Linked DNA regions of Homo sapiens. The protein of the gene in region 4 purifies or fractionates together with the protein of the main gene of each other region. This does not show direct contact. Each region holds a gene or a part of one and is shown on either strand. Other genes may lie near its edges.

Region 1 (3,956 bases), on a different chromosome or scaffold from region 4:
CAGCAGTCACTGCCATTCCATACTGTCTTATTCTCTGGTAACCGCTAATTGACTCTCCCTCTTTGTGGATTTGTTTCTAGTGGACATGCCACGTGAATGGAATCACATAATAGGTGGTCCTTGTGTCTTTGACTTAGCACATTCTCAAGGTTCATCCGTGTTGTAGCATGTATCAGGACTTCACTCCTTTAAAGATACAGTTTTCACAAGCTCCCCAGCTAGTTCTGATGAGTGGGCTTTGGGAGAAAAAGAGGAGCCAATTCATATCAGGTGATTCTTGGGTTATTATTGAGACATGGGGCCTCATCCCTTCTTCCTTGTGTGCCTGTCTCAGGGGCCTCAAGAGGAACAGGAGGAACACTGGCTGCCTGCCTCTTCCAGACTCCAGAGGTTGGGCAAGTCTCCCATACACTGGAGGGAGGTGTGTGTCTATGGACAGTAGCCTGGCTGCTCTGGAGATCAGGCGGATTAACTGCAAGAGACACACACACACAAGGGGATTGTCTCAACTCGAAGACTTTAATGTACATTATGCTCTTGGAAAAACATCTCCAAGGAAACAAGTGGAAGCAAAAGTCTCAACCAGCAGGGATTCTCATTCAAAAACATGGTGTGAGCCCCAGTCTTGGAAAAGGATGGCACAGGGACTGTGATCATAGTACAACAGTTTGATGTCAGGGTGGCAGGGCCTGTGTACTTGTCTAGAGAGGAACCCTGCCACACAGCACGAAGGACTCCCGAGGAACCAGGAGCTCATTACTCCGGTGACTGACAGCTCCACAGCGGGACTGGGAAGATTTAGGCTGACCAGGTCTTCTTCAGCACTTGGAAGGCACAAAACTTCGTAAAGGCCTTAAGAAGCCTGCTCTGGGCAGAAACCTTTCTGGTTGTTGTTGACTCTCCAGGTCATCAGAAACAGTCACGGTGGCTCTGGTGAGGAAGGGGAGGGTCCCACTTCTGGGTGAGGCCTCGGAATGGAACAGGTGGGAGGTGACAGCACCAGCAAGGCCTCTGAGGCCAGGGTCCACACCCACCTTGGGAGATGACCCACTGGGCCTCTGGACAGGAGAATGGGATTTCGATGGAGAAAGCTGAAGCTGACCACCTGCTAGATTGAATCCAGCTGCCTCCCTTGAAACTCTCTTCCCAATCAAGGGCTCCCAAGGAGCTGCAGGCCAAGTCCTCTGCTCCTATTTAGCAAGAGGCAGGCGGCAATTCGGGCTGATCTCCCCATCACCCTTCATTTAACCGCAAAAAAAGTCACCAACCAACTTCTCAGACCCCCTGGGCAATCCAGGGTTTCTTGTTTCCTAAGCTCCTATGGAACAAGCAATCAGTTCTTTCTTGGACTTTTGGTTCAATTCCTTCTCATTCAGAGGAAATATGGTTGCCGTGTAGGCAGATGTCTCCTAGGAGCGTGTGTGTGTAAGAGCCTGTGTGAAATTCAGCCAGGTTAGCACCAAGGCCTGGCTGATGGGGAACCCACAAATGTGCCTTCAGGATGGGTACAGCCTCTTTGGCAATGAAGAAATATATTTATCAGTGAAAAAGGGAATTCTGGCTCCATCTTTGCAGGACCTGGAGAGATTGCTGCCCTGGCAGGTCCCAGGATGGGAAGAAGTAAATGGAGAGGCCAGGACTGCAGCCCTGTGGGAAGGGGCCCCTCGCAGCTGAGAGCGCTCCCCGAGTTAGCCCATCTCGATGCCCTCAGGGAGCTCCACCACCACCGGGGCACAGTCCTCAGGTTCCGCAGCAAAGTCCCACCGGAACTTCTTGGTCAGGTGAGCTTGGAACTTTTCAGCTTTCTTTCTCAGGGTGGCATCCACGGCAATGCTGCAGGCAGAGGAAAAGAAAACCTACAGAGAACAGAGGATAAGTCACTCCTGAGAAGACGGAGGGCAGGGGGCGAGAAAGCTGTGGAAATTTCCTCATGGTGTTCGGCTCTTCTGGGGCGGGTAGATCAGCTGCTGCTGGCATAGGCCCAGGACACCTGCTATGCTCCCCCCAAACCAAGAAAGAAGGTCCAAACCCAGCTGAGATGCTAGGGCAGGACTAGAATGGAAAATTACTATCTGGGCAGAGGCTGGGGGCCATTACCCTGGCTCCACCCCCTGGGGGGTTCTACTGGACACCCGGGCAGTAACCCAGAGGAACAGGTAGTAGCTACACCAGTCGGTACTAAGGTCCTAAGAAAGGCTTGGGGGTGCTTATAAGCCCCTGGATCCCATAAAGTCCCAGGCCCCAAGCCAACACGACTGAATTGCTGCTCTAATCTTCTAAATGGGCCACAGGCTGCCAGTTTGAGGCTTCTATCCCCCTTAAAAGCTGTCTTTGATTTTTTTTTTAATTGTGGTAAAATATACAGATGGACCCTGACTTACATTCAATTTATGACACTTCGACTTTATGATGATGCAAAGTGATACACATTCAGAAGAAGCTGCACTTTGAATTGTTTCTTTCAGTACAGTATTCAAGAAATTACATGAGATATTCAACACTTCCTTATAAAATAGGCTTTGTGTTAAATGATTTTGCACAACTGTAGGCTAGTGTTAGTGTTCTGAGCACGTTTGAGGTGGGTGAGGCTGAGCTACAATGTTAGGGACGTTAGGTGTAATCAATGCATTTTTTACTTACGGTATATCTGATTTACAGTTTATTAAGACATAACCCCATGTGAAGCTGAGGAGCATCTGTACATAAGATCTACCATTTCAACCATTTAAAAATATTTTTATTTTTTAAACTGTGGCAAAATATACATATTATTTTAGCCATTTTAAGTGTACAGTTGAGTAGCATTAAGTACACTGACACTGTTGTACAACCATCACCACCATCCATCTTCAGAATGACCCCATCATCCCCGGCCAAAACTCTGCAGCCATTAAACAGCAACTCCCCCTTCCCTCTTCCCTCCAGGCCCTGGCAACCCACATTCTACTTTCCAACTCTGTGAATTCGACTACCCTATCCCCCTTCCCTCCTCCCACCAGGCCCTGGCAACCCACATTCTACTTTCTGTCTCTATGAATCTGACTACTCTAGGCACCTCATCTAAGTGGAATCATACAGCATTTGTCCTTTTGCAACTGGCTTATTTCACTTAGCATAATATCCTTCAAGGTTCATTAATGATGCAGCATGTGTCAGAATTTCCTTTCTTTTGAAGGCTGAATAATATTCTGTTGTATGCAGATACCACATTTTGTTTGTCTAGTCATCTGTCAATGCCTATTTGTGTTGTTTTTACCTTCTGGCTATCGTGAATAATGCTGCTATGAACATGGGTGTACACATATCTCTTAGGGTCTCTGCTTTCAGTTCTTTTGCACAGAAACCCAGGAGTGGAGCTGTTGGATCATACGGGAACTCCCTGTTTAAATTCTGATGAACTGCCACAGTTTTTCACAGGGGCCGTACCATTTTATATTCCCACCAGCAATGCACAAAGGTTCTCATTTCTCCACATCCTGGCCAACGCCTGTTATTTTCTCTGTGTGTTTAAATCATGCCATTCTAATAGGTAGGAGGTAGTATCTTACTGCAGTTTGGATTTGCATTTCCCTAATGATCAGTGGATATTGAGTATGTTTTCATGTGCACATTGGCCATTTGTATATCTTCTTTGGTGAAATGTCCATTCAACTTCCTTGCCCATTTGTAAATTGGGTTGTTTTTGCATTGTTGAGTTGTAGGAGTTCTTTATATATTCTGGATATCAACCCCTTATTCTGATGCTCTCATGAACAGTTTCATTTAATACAAACATGGGCAGGGGAGCAGAATGGTAATTTTTTCCACATCTGAAACCCCATTCCAGATTGTCCTGGATCCCAGTCCCTCCCTAAGAGTAATAGCAAACCCATGATTCCTTCTTATACTATTTTACTGTTTTCAAAGAAGTTTCACAGAGCATCCAACTGGATCCTCCCAATACCCTGGAAAGATAC
Region 2 (3,500 bases), on a different chromosome or scaffold from region 4:
TCCCTATGCTTCCCCTATCCCAGCTGGAACACTTTCCTGCCGGCTCTTTTCTCTGCTGCCTGAGTTGGACATTATAAGGAGGAAGGCAGCTCACCTGAGGGTGGTAGACACTCAGGGACTTGACCTTGTGAAGGGGAAGTAGGACACGGATGAGGAACATCTTGTGCTCTTCTTTAAGGGGCAGGGCAAAGCCATTGATGATGCTAGGAATTAAGGGACATTTGTTAGGACCAGAGGGTCAGATCCAAGTTCAGTACACCAATCCTGCCAACCTTTTTCAGGCATCTGTGCCCCCACCCGGCCTCTCACCTGCCCAGGATCTCCAGGAGCTCAGCAATCCCGTTGTGATGCTCCGTCTCGTAGATGAACCTGAGGGAAGAAAAATGGCTCTCTTGACAACCCCTGATGTCCCTCCAGCATTCTGTACAGTCCCCCCACCTCCCTGCTCCCACCCCACCTCAGTAGCAGAAGGTTTTGCTCCTAAGCCTGGGCTCCTGGCCTCACCTGTAGAAGATGTGGTTGATCTGCCTACGGATATAAGCCCGGAGCCCCAAAAACTTGCCATAGATGCGATGCAAAATGGTCTTGAGGAAGTCCCGCTCTCGAGGATCCTCACTGTCAAATAGGTCTAGGAGCTGGGGGTACAAGGGAGGGAAAGCAGCCAGTGAGGCAGCAGCCAGGGAAGGCAGTGGCCAGGGTGACATAGGTCCCGCCAGGGGAAATGCAGAGGTCCCCTGGAGTGGGGGCCAGCAAGTCTTAGAAAGCAGTGATTCTATTATATTGCTGATTCTATTGTATTTGTACTGAGACTTCCAAAGTGATGCCTCACTATTGACCTGAGAGAGGTACTCTGTTGCTTTTTTGTTTCCTACCATTATGTTGTTAGTTTCTTAAGGCCAGAGTAGGGTTTTGTTTTGTTTTGTTTTTTACCCTTTATAGCCTCCTCGTACCAGACATGGATGAAACCCAATATATTCAGCTTAAGGGGAAAGAGCCACTGGGACACAGATGAAGGGGGCATGGAATGGAAAGAGAGGGCAAGGACAGGAACTCGGGGACTCACAGCAAGTACAAACTTCTGGTCGATGTACTTCTTGGCTATGTTTGGCTGGAAATCAGGAGACTCAAGGAAACGTAAGAAGAACTCATACACGAGCTATAGGGGAAAAGGCACGCCACTGAGGGGATGTTCCCAAGGACTTGCAGGCCTCCAAGTGCCCCACTCCCTGCAGCCACGGCCAATCTGCCCCCTTGCCCTGGTACCTGGAGATGTGGCCAAGCAGCTTCCAGGGTGGGCTCATCTTCCTCTGGGTCAAACTCAGCCCCTGTGGGATTCGATGAAGGTGGCAGCGTCCGGAAGAGGTTCACTGAAAACTGAGGGGTAGGGCCAGTTAGAGCTCCACCTGGGCTTCTCCAGAGCCCCTCACCAGTCCCCCCTGTGTCCTTTCCCTGTGCCCACCATGGTGACAGCCTCAGGGTAAATGGCCTCAGTGACAACATCACGGCTATGGGTGATGTACTCCACCATCTCGTTGAGTCCTGCCCGCTTCACCTCCTTGAATTTGAGGTCACTGAGTGGGTCTGACACGAAGTCAAAGAGGACACAGCACTGGCGTAGCTTCTGGATAAACAGCTCCTCCCGCTCCTGGGTTGGCGAATCTGTGGGGGCCCCAGCAGTCAGGTTCTCCTCTGTAGTCCTTCACTGCGATGCCCTGCTTGCCTTCAAGGGCTTTCCCTTACCCCACCCTGCCACCATCCTGCTCCCTGGCACCCCCTTCCCGCATTCTCTGGAACTCCCTTCCCCGCAAAATACCCCAAAACTTCCATTCCACCAACTCCCGATGCCCACTAGAACTGGTAAAACAGCCCCTGTGACCAATTGCCAAGTACCTTTCAGGGCAGGAAGCTTCTGCAGCTCCCGATTCTTGCTGAGGTTGAAGCGGGAGGAGCTTTGCCGTCGCTCCTTCTTGACAATCTGGGGCCCCCCTGAGTACTTGATTTTGCTGAGCTGCGTGGGGGGCGGCGTGCTATTGCTGGGACGCTTGTTGGATGACGGTGGCTGAGACTGGGCTTGGGGCTGGGGCTGGGGCTGGGGCTGCGGCTGGGCCTGGTCAAACAAGTCACCTGTTGAAATCCACTTCCCAAGATATGCCTCCCACCCTGGGCCTGGCCATCCCCAAGTCTGTTTATGCCTGCACAGGCCTGGGCAGTGAGCAGCTGTCTCCTGCCCCGAAGGAGCTAAGGCCAGGGTTACAGAGATAACTGTGCTGTAGCCCTGGCAGGGAGCAGTCAAGAAGTCACATCACCCAAAGAGATGCCCACTGCTTGTGCATCAAGAGCCTTTAAAACGTTCATTCCAGTTCATGAACAGGTAAAGCTAATTGATAGATTGATGGTGACAGAAGTCAAAAAAGTGATTACGTTGCCAGGGGAAATGGGGTGGGTATTGCTAAGAAGACACATGATGAATAAGAAGACACATGAGGAATAAGAAGAGACATGAGGAGCCTTCTGAGTAATGTAAACATCCTGTATCTTGACTGGACCTGCAAGGTGGTGCATGGCAGATACATACCTAAAATTTATTGAGCAGTACACTTAAGATCCTTTACTGAATGTATGACAGTCTCCAATCAAAAGGTAGAAGAGGCCGGGCGCAGTGGCTCACACTTGTAATCCCAGCACTTTGGGAGGCCGAGGAGGGCAGATCACCTGAGGTCAAGAGTTCAAGACCAGCCAGGCCAACATGGTGAAACCCCATCTCTACTAAAAATACAAACATTAGCCAGGCGTGGTGGCAGGCGCCTGTAATCCCAGCTACTTGGGAGGCTGAGGCAGGAGAATCGCTTGAACCCAGGAGGCGGAGGTTGCAGTGAGCCGAGATCATGCCATTGCACTCCAGCCTGGGGGACAAGAGCGAGACTTTGTCTCAAAAAAAAAAAACAAAACAAAAGGTAAAAGAAAGGCCAGGCACAGTGGCCAAAGCCTGTAATCCCAACACTTTGGGAAGCCAAAGCAGGAGGATTACTTGAAGCCAGAAGTTTGAAACCAGCCTGAACAACGTAGCAAGACCCCATCTCTACAAAAAATTTTTTTTAATTAGCCAGGTGTGGTGGCACATGCCTGCAGTTCCAGCTACTCAGGAAGCTTACTGGAGTTCCAGCTACTCAAGGTTGGAGGATCCCTTGCGCCCAGGAGTTCAAGTCTCCCATGAGCTATGATCACACCAACTGCACTCCAGCCTGAACAACAAAACAACACTGTCTCTAAAGATAAAAATTTTCAAATTTAAAAAGGTAAAAGAAAGAAATTCATTCCCATGTCTTAGGACTTTACTAGAAATTTAGCTTAATAAAAATCCTAAATTAAAAAAAAAAAGCTTTGGAGGAGACAGAGGTAGCCAGGCAAAAAGAAAAAAAAAAAAAAAAGCTTTGTGCACAAATACTTTTAACAACCTCATTTATAACAGAAAATGAATAAATGGAATATCAGGAGTTAAT
Region 3 (3,240 bases), on a different chromosome or scaffold from region 4:
CGACCTGCTGGCCGTGTTGCGGGGCCTCAGTGAGGATTTCCAGAAAGCTGAGGATGCCAGCAAGTTTGAGCTCTGCCAGCTGCTGCCCCTCTTTTTGCCCCCGACAACCGTGCCCCCTGAATGCTACCGGGATCTGCAGGCCGGGCTGGCACGCATCCTGGGAAGCAAGCTGAGCTCCTGGCAGCGCAACCCTGCACTGAAGCTGGCAGCCCGCCTGGCACACGCCTGCGGCTCCGACTGGATCCCGGCGGGCAGCTCCGGGAGCAAGTTCCTGGCCCTGCTGGTGAATCTGGCGTGCGTGGAAGTGCGGCTGGCACTGGAGGAGACGGGCACGGAGGTGAAAGAGGATGTGGTGACCGCCTGCTATGCCCTCATGGAGTTGGGGATCCAGGAATGCACTCGCTGTGAGCAGTCACTGCTTAAGGAGCCACAGAAGGTGCAGCTCGTGAGCGTCATGAAGGAGGCCATAGGGGCTGTTATCCACTACCTGCTGCAGGTGAGGGTGCAGTGACCCACAGAGGGGGCCCAGTATGGGGGGAGCCAGTGCTGGAGCTGGGAGGCAAGGGGGAGGAGAATAATGGGGAGACAGCGAAGCTGCATGTCCACACAAGCTGATACTGTAGCCAGCACTCCAGGGAGTAGTGTGCGGCCCAACCTCCCTCTCTCTCCCTCCCTCCACACAAGCACCATACCACACACCATATGTGCACTCACATCACAGTACACACACACGCACACACACACAACACAGTAACCTCCCACTCAAACGCTCCCCCCAATACACACACACTACACGCCACACACCTCTCCCCAACACATGCACACAAGATTGAAGCAGTCTGTTCTGCTCACTCCATAGCATTGTTTTATACACGCACACACCCGAACTTCTAATGGTGCAGGGAAGAGAAGCAGGGCTGCCTGGTTCCTGGCCTCTATAGAGGTCTGGCTAGATCAATTCGCCTGCCTCCCCTACATCCCCTCCTGCCTCCCCGCCTGAGAGGCCAGCTGTCCTGTCCCACAGGGATTCAGTCATGACTCTGGTCTCTTTAATGGCCTGCTCCAGCCACCGAGCTCACCAGCCATATATTCCATGCACCACGCTAAGCTCATGTCTTTTTTCTGACTTAGCACAAAAGAGAGCATCCCCTCACTCCCACCATTGGGAGCAGTTACACAGTAGCCAGGAACCTGCCCTCCCACCCCAGGTCAGAGCTGCTGTAAAGGGTGTTTAACTTAGCTTTTGACCTATGAATTTCCTTCTAGCCTTGAGACACTCCAGAGGTAGGGAGTTAGGGAGATGTGACTGGAGCCTCAGCGAGTACGGGGGCATGTCACTCAATTCACTCAGGCCCAGTTCACTCAGCAGACGTGTGTGGAGGGCCTGGCTCACTCTGTGCCAGTCCCTTGTGTGCGTCCCTACCACATGCTAGGTGCTGGGTTCATGGGACAGAATAAAGGTTGGGGCCTGCCTTTGAAAGGCTCACAGGCCAGAATTTCCTTCTAGTTGTATTATTTCTAGCTGGCTGGCCTCTGGCAAGGCAGGGAGGGTCCCTGGTCCTGCTCCATCTCAAGGGGGTCCTGTGGCAACAGGTGGGGTCAGAGAAGCAGAAGGAGCCCTTTGTGTTTGCCTCGGTGCGGATCCTGGGTGCCTGGCTGGCCGAGGAGACCTCATCCTTGCGTAAGGAGGTGTGCCAGCTGCTGCCCTTCCTCGTCCGCTATGCCAAGACCCTCTACGAGGAGGCCGAGGAGGCCAATGACCTTTCCCAGCAGGTGGCCAACCTGGCCATCTCCCCCACCACCCCAGGGCCCACCTGGCCAGGAGACGCTCTCCGGTGAGTCTGTAGTTACAGTCTGTCCAGCTAGATCATTCTACCGAAAAGCGTTAACACAAGGACACCCCTCCCCACAAACTGAGCTGTGCCAGGCTTCCTGATTGGGCCATGAGATATCCCTTAGGGTTATTTCTGTTTTGGGGGGCTTGTTCCCACAGGACTCCTCGGCTGCCAGGTGTCACTTGCCAACCCCAGATTTCTCAGTTAAAAGAGAACTTATACTTATTGAGCACCTACTACGAGCCAGGTATTTTGCTATACCCTTTACCAAAATGATCTCATTTGGTCCACGTGGTAAATATAACAGAAGTCTCATTCACATATGAAAGATTAGGAAACTGAGGCTCATAGAGATTAAAGTCACTTGCCCACAGTCACACTTTGTGGCAGAGCCCAAGTTTGGTCCTGGGTTGTGCGACTCTGAAGCTTGTACTTTTTCTGTGGTACCTGCGAGGATGTGTCCTTCTCCCCTACTTCCATTTCTCTTAGGCAAGGTGCCCTAAAAAGGGAATCTATGTGCCTTCATCTCTCCCAATCCCACACACGTCTGTCCCTTCCACATCCCCAGGCTCCTCCTGCCTGGCTGGTGCCACCTGACCGTTGAAGATGGGCCCCGGGAGATCCTGATCAAGGAAGGGGCCCCCTCGCTTCTGTGCAAGTATTTCCTGCAGCAGTGGGAACTCACATCCCCTGGCCACGACACCTCGGTGCTGCCTGACAGCGTGGAGATTGGCCTGCAGACCTGCTGCCACATCTTCCTCAACCTCGTGGTCACCGCACCGGGGCTGATCAAGTGAGGGGCTCGGGAGAGGTGGGGGAGGAGGCCGGAGGAGGCAAAGGAGGCTGCCCAGTTGCCTCAATTCTCAGTCTCCTACTTTGCCCCCCATGCCCATGGATTTGTTAGTGGTAGCATGGGGGTCTCAGAGTAGACATAGCCAGCCCCGCACAAGGATTCGGCATGCTGGAACCCCCAGGTACTGTCTCAGCATGTCTGCTTGTTCCAATCTCTGCCCCCCAGATGCTATGTTTGGGGCCCAAAGTTAATCACCCTACTGCCTAATTTCTTGCCAAGGGCTTGATTTGGCTGTACTAGACCCCCACCTACCTCCATCCTTCCCCCCTTTCTTTTCCAGGCGTGACGCCTGCTTCACATCTCTAATGAACACCCTCATGACGTCGCTACCAGCACTAGTGCAGCAACAGGGAAGGCTGCTTCTGGCTGCTAATGTGGCCACCCTGGGGCTCCTCATGGCCCGGCTCCTTAGCACCTCTCCAGGTAAGAACTGGGGATCCAGTCCTGATGGGTGAGGACAGAAGACCTGGGTGGACCTCCTGTGTTTGGGGCAAAAGTCACCATTTTTAGAAGATGGTTTTGCAGCATTTTCTAAGCAAGAGGAAATCTTTG
Region 4 (3,500 bases):
ATATATTCTAGACTGGATCTTTTCTAAAAGAGAGTATCTGAACAACTAGCAAAATTTGAATGGGGTCTGAGAATTAAATGATAGCAAAGTACCAACATTAATTTTCTGATTTTGATAGCTGTATTGTGACTATGTACAAAAATAACATTATTTGTTGGAAATATACACTAAATTATTCAGGAATGATACAGCATCATCTTGGAAACTTATTCTTAGAAGTTATATGTATTGTCCTGCCCTTAAACATTTTTCACAAATTTGAAATTATTTCTAATCAGAAAAAAAAGTTAAAACTATTTCCACCATAGATAAGGTTCCACAGTATTAAAAAATAATCCTATCCTTTGAAATGTAAATATCCTCAAATCTCAAAATAGTCATTCTCATTTGTCTTTAATATTTTATTAATAATCTATTCCTAGCTAAAGCTAACCAAAGAAATTGTGCTTATAAAGGAAACAGAAGAATAGATATATCAACTCATTGGAGATTTGTAATATCTAACCCTTTAATTGGTTCTCCAAGTATTTCCTCTGATCTTCATAAGCACTACAAAATTCCCTATTCATCCAGAACTCTTGGAACCTCCTTGAATAAAGATTCTCCACACATAAGAGAATCAATATGCAAAGTGTTCAAAGCAGCCAAGTCAGTCATTAACTCACCAGATTCCAAGAATAATAGCGATCTCTTCAGCACACAGATCCGGCATCTGGAACTGTTCACAATCTGCTAACTTTATGTCATTCAGAATGGTGTCATCATTGAGCTCAAGATTCTAGTAGAATACAAAAGAAAATACTTAGACCAAAAATTAAATTTTATTCATTCACCAGAATGGCATGTAATAGATTGCTAGAAAGGATAAAGTTAACTTACCTGTTTGACATATGGTCAATAGGCTATTTCTTGTGAAACACATATTTGGAAACAATTTACCTTCCAGAAATGAAAGATGTGCCATCTATACCTCAAGAATGCACTAACAATGACAATAATAGGGAATAACAGCTATCACTGATTGAGCCAAGTATGCAAAAGCCCCTCTGCAGATAATTTTATATACATTTTTCAAATTCTTCCTCACAACAATCATAGACAATAGGCATTTCTATCCTTATTTACTGATGAAAAAACAAAGAATCAGATACTTGAAGCTCATCCAAGATCACACTCAAAGTATGTGATAGCATCAGGATTCAAAACTGGATCTTTCTATTCTGCCTCTAAATTCTAATCAAAAACATCAACTTCCCAACTCTGTGTCTCAGCAATATAGTGTGATCAGTTGAGAAATTTCTCACAAATAGCTTGTTATCAATGATGGAAATGCCAAACTGTGACAAGCTCATTCTAAAATTTATATGGAAATGCAAATGATCGACAATAACCAAAACAATTTTTAAAAGAATAAAATATGAGGAAGTACTTGATTTCAAGAATTACTATAAAGCCCAGACAGTATAGTACTGGCATAAAGACAGACATATAAAGTGAATGGAATAGAATACAGTTCAAAATTTTAGACCCATGCATATATGATGGATTGATTTTCAATATAGCTACCTAGGTGTTTCAACAGGTAAAGCCTTTCAATAAATGAAATTAGAGAACTTTGGGAGGCCAAGGTGGGAGGAAGCTTGAGGCCAGGAGTTTGAGATCAGCCTGAGTAACACAGCAAGACCCTGTCTCTCCAAAAAATAAGTAAGTGAATGAATGATGTCAGAACAACTGGATATCCATTTGGAAAAAAAAATGACCCTTCACGTTTATCTCAATCATACACAAAAATTAAATCAAAATTAATCACAGACCTTAATATACAAGCTAAAGCTAAAAAAACTTCTAGAAGAAAACATTAAAAAAAACTTTGTAACCCTGAGATGGAAAGGCAGTCAGTCCTTAATTAGGATACAAAAAGTATGAATTATAAGAGAAAAACTTCATAAATTAGACTTCATCAAATTAAAAACTTCTGTTCTCTGAAAACATTGTTAAGACAAAAAGTCAAGCTCCAGATCCAAATATACTGACAAAACATATATCTGAAAAGGGACTTGCATCCAGAATATGGAGAACTCTTAGAACTCAATAAGAAGACAAACAACTCAAATTAAAAATGGGCAAGAGAGGCCAGGCATGGTGGCTCACGCCTGTAATACCAGCACTTTAGGAGGCCAAGGTGGGTGGATCACTTGAGGTCAGGAGTTCGAGACCAGCCTGGCAAACATGGCAAAAACCCCGTCTCTACCAAAAATACAAAAATTAGCCAGGCATGGTGGCGTATACCTGTACTCCCAGCTACTCGGGAGGCTGAGGCAGGAGAATCACTTGAACCCGGGAGGTGGAGGTTGCAGTAAGCTGAGATCATGCCACTGCACTCCAGCCTGGGCAATAGAGCGAGATTCCATTTCAAAAATAAAAAAAGAAGAGAAAAAAAAAAACTTACGTTCACACAAAGACTTACATACATATTTTCTAGGCAGGTTTATTAGTAATACCTGCTAGAAATAACTTAAATGTCCACCAACAGTTCATATTGGTATTTCAACATGGATGAATCTTGAAACCATTAAGCCAGACCAAAAGATTATACACTGTATGATTCCATTTATTGGAAATTCTAGAAAAGACAGATCTAATCTATGACAGCAACTGACTGACTGCAAAGAACTATGGCGGCACTCTTTGGAGAAACTTTTTTTCATTGTGGTGGTGGTGACACGCGTCTAATTGTTAAATCTCAACAAAGTGTAATTTAAAATCGGTATATTTTATATAAATTATTCCTCAATAATCTTGGGTTAAATTTTTTTCTAATTCAACAACAACAAAAAAAGAGGACTTTAGGAGCCAAATGAAGCTAGACAGAAGCCAGGTGCGGTGGCTCATGCCTGTAATCCCAGCACTTTGAGAGGCTGAGGCGGGCGGATCACCCGACGTCAGAAGTTCGAGACCAGCCTGGCCAGCATGGTGAAGCCTCGTCTCTACTAAAAATACAACAACTATCCGGGCGTGGTGGCATGTGGCTGTAGTCTCAGCTACTCGGAGGCTAAGGCAGGCTACAGAATGAGACACCATCTCAAAAAAAATAAAAAATAAAAAAATTAAAATACATATTTTCACATTGTAACATTTCTTTCTTTTCTTTTTTTTTTTTTTTTTTGAGAAAGTCTCACTTAGTCACCTAGGCTGGAGTGCAGTAGCATGATCTCGGCTCACTGCAACCTCCACCTCCTGGGTTCAGGCGATTCTCCTGCCTCAGCCTCCCAAGTAGCTGGAATTACAGGCACACACCACCACGCCCGGATAATCTTTTCTATTTTTAGCAGAGATGGGGTTTCGGCATGTTGGCCAGGTTGGTCTCGAACTCCTGACCTCAAGTGATCCTCCCACCTCGGCCTCCCAAAGTGCTGGGACTACAGGCGTGAGCCACCACACCGGGCCATGTTGTAACATTTCCAATCAGGATATGTTTTGTAATCACTATAAATGGTATA

Evidence for each region. Proteins that work in one complex are often made in the same cells at the same time.
Region 1: the proteins of TTC27 (region 4) and AAR2 purify together in Homo sapiens (affinity purification with mass spectrometry; 3 studies listed by BioGRID and IntAct, with this or other methods). This does not show direct contact.
Region 2: the proteins of TTC27 (region 4) and PPP2R5D purify together in Homo sapiens (affinity purification with mass spectrometry; 2 studies listed by BioGRID and IntAct, with this or other methods). This does not show direct contact.
Region 3: the proteins of TTC27 (region 4) and NCDN purify together in Homo sapiens (affinity purification with mass spectrometry; 2 studies listed by BioGRID and IntAct, with this or other methods). This does not show direct contact.

Annotation. Positions count from the first base shown.
Region 1 is NC_000020.11:36,253,478-36,257,433, reverse strand, and holds the end of AAR2 (protein AAR2 homolog), read right to left. Parts: intron 1,857-3,956; coding exon 1,689-1,856; 3' UTR 501-1,688; downstream 1-500. UniProt on the Homo sapiens protein: Component of the U5 snRNP complex that is required for spliceosome assembly and for pre-mRNA splicing.
Region 2 is NC_000006.12:43,005,070-43,008,569, reverse strand, and holds part of PPP2R5D (serine/threonine-protein phosphatase 2A 56 kDa regulatory subunit delta isoform), read right to left. Parts: intron 2,125-3,500; exon of another isoform or gene 2,108-2,124; coding exon 1,891-2,107; intron 1,660-1,890; coding exon 1,460-1,659; intron 1,375-1,459; coding exon 1,264-1,374; intron 1,157-1,263; coding exon 1,064-1,156; intron 636-1,063; coding exon 505-635; intron 370-504; coding exon 310-369; intron 204-309; coding exon 95-203; intron 1-94. UniProt on the Homo sapiens protein: The B regulatory subunit might modulate substrate selectivity and catalytic activity, and might also direct the localization of the catalytic enzyme to a particular subcellular compartment.
Region 3 is NC_000001.11:35,560,799-35,564,038, forward strand, and holds part of NCDN (neurochondrin), read left to right. Parts: coding exon 1-496; intron 497-1,593; coding exon 1,594-1,835; intron 1,836-2,403; coding exon 2,404-2,628; intron 2,629-2,968; coding exon 2,969-3,111; intron 3,112-3,240. UniProt on the Homo sapiens protein: Probably involved in signal transduction in the nervous system, via increasing cell surface localization of GRM5/mGluR5 and positively regulating its signaling. Required for the spatial learning process.
Region 4 is NC_000002.12:32,669,550-32,673,049, reverse strand, and holds part of TTC27 (tetratricopeptide repeat protein 27), read right to left. Parts: intron 779-3,500; coding exon 666-778; intron 1-665.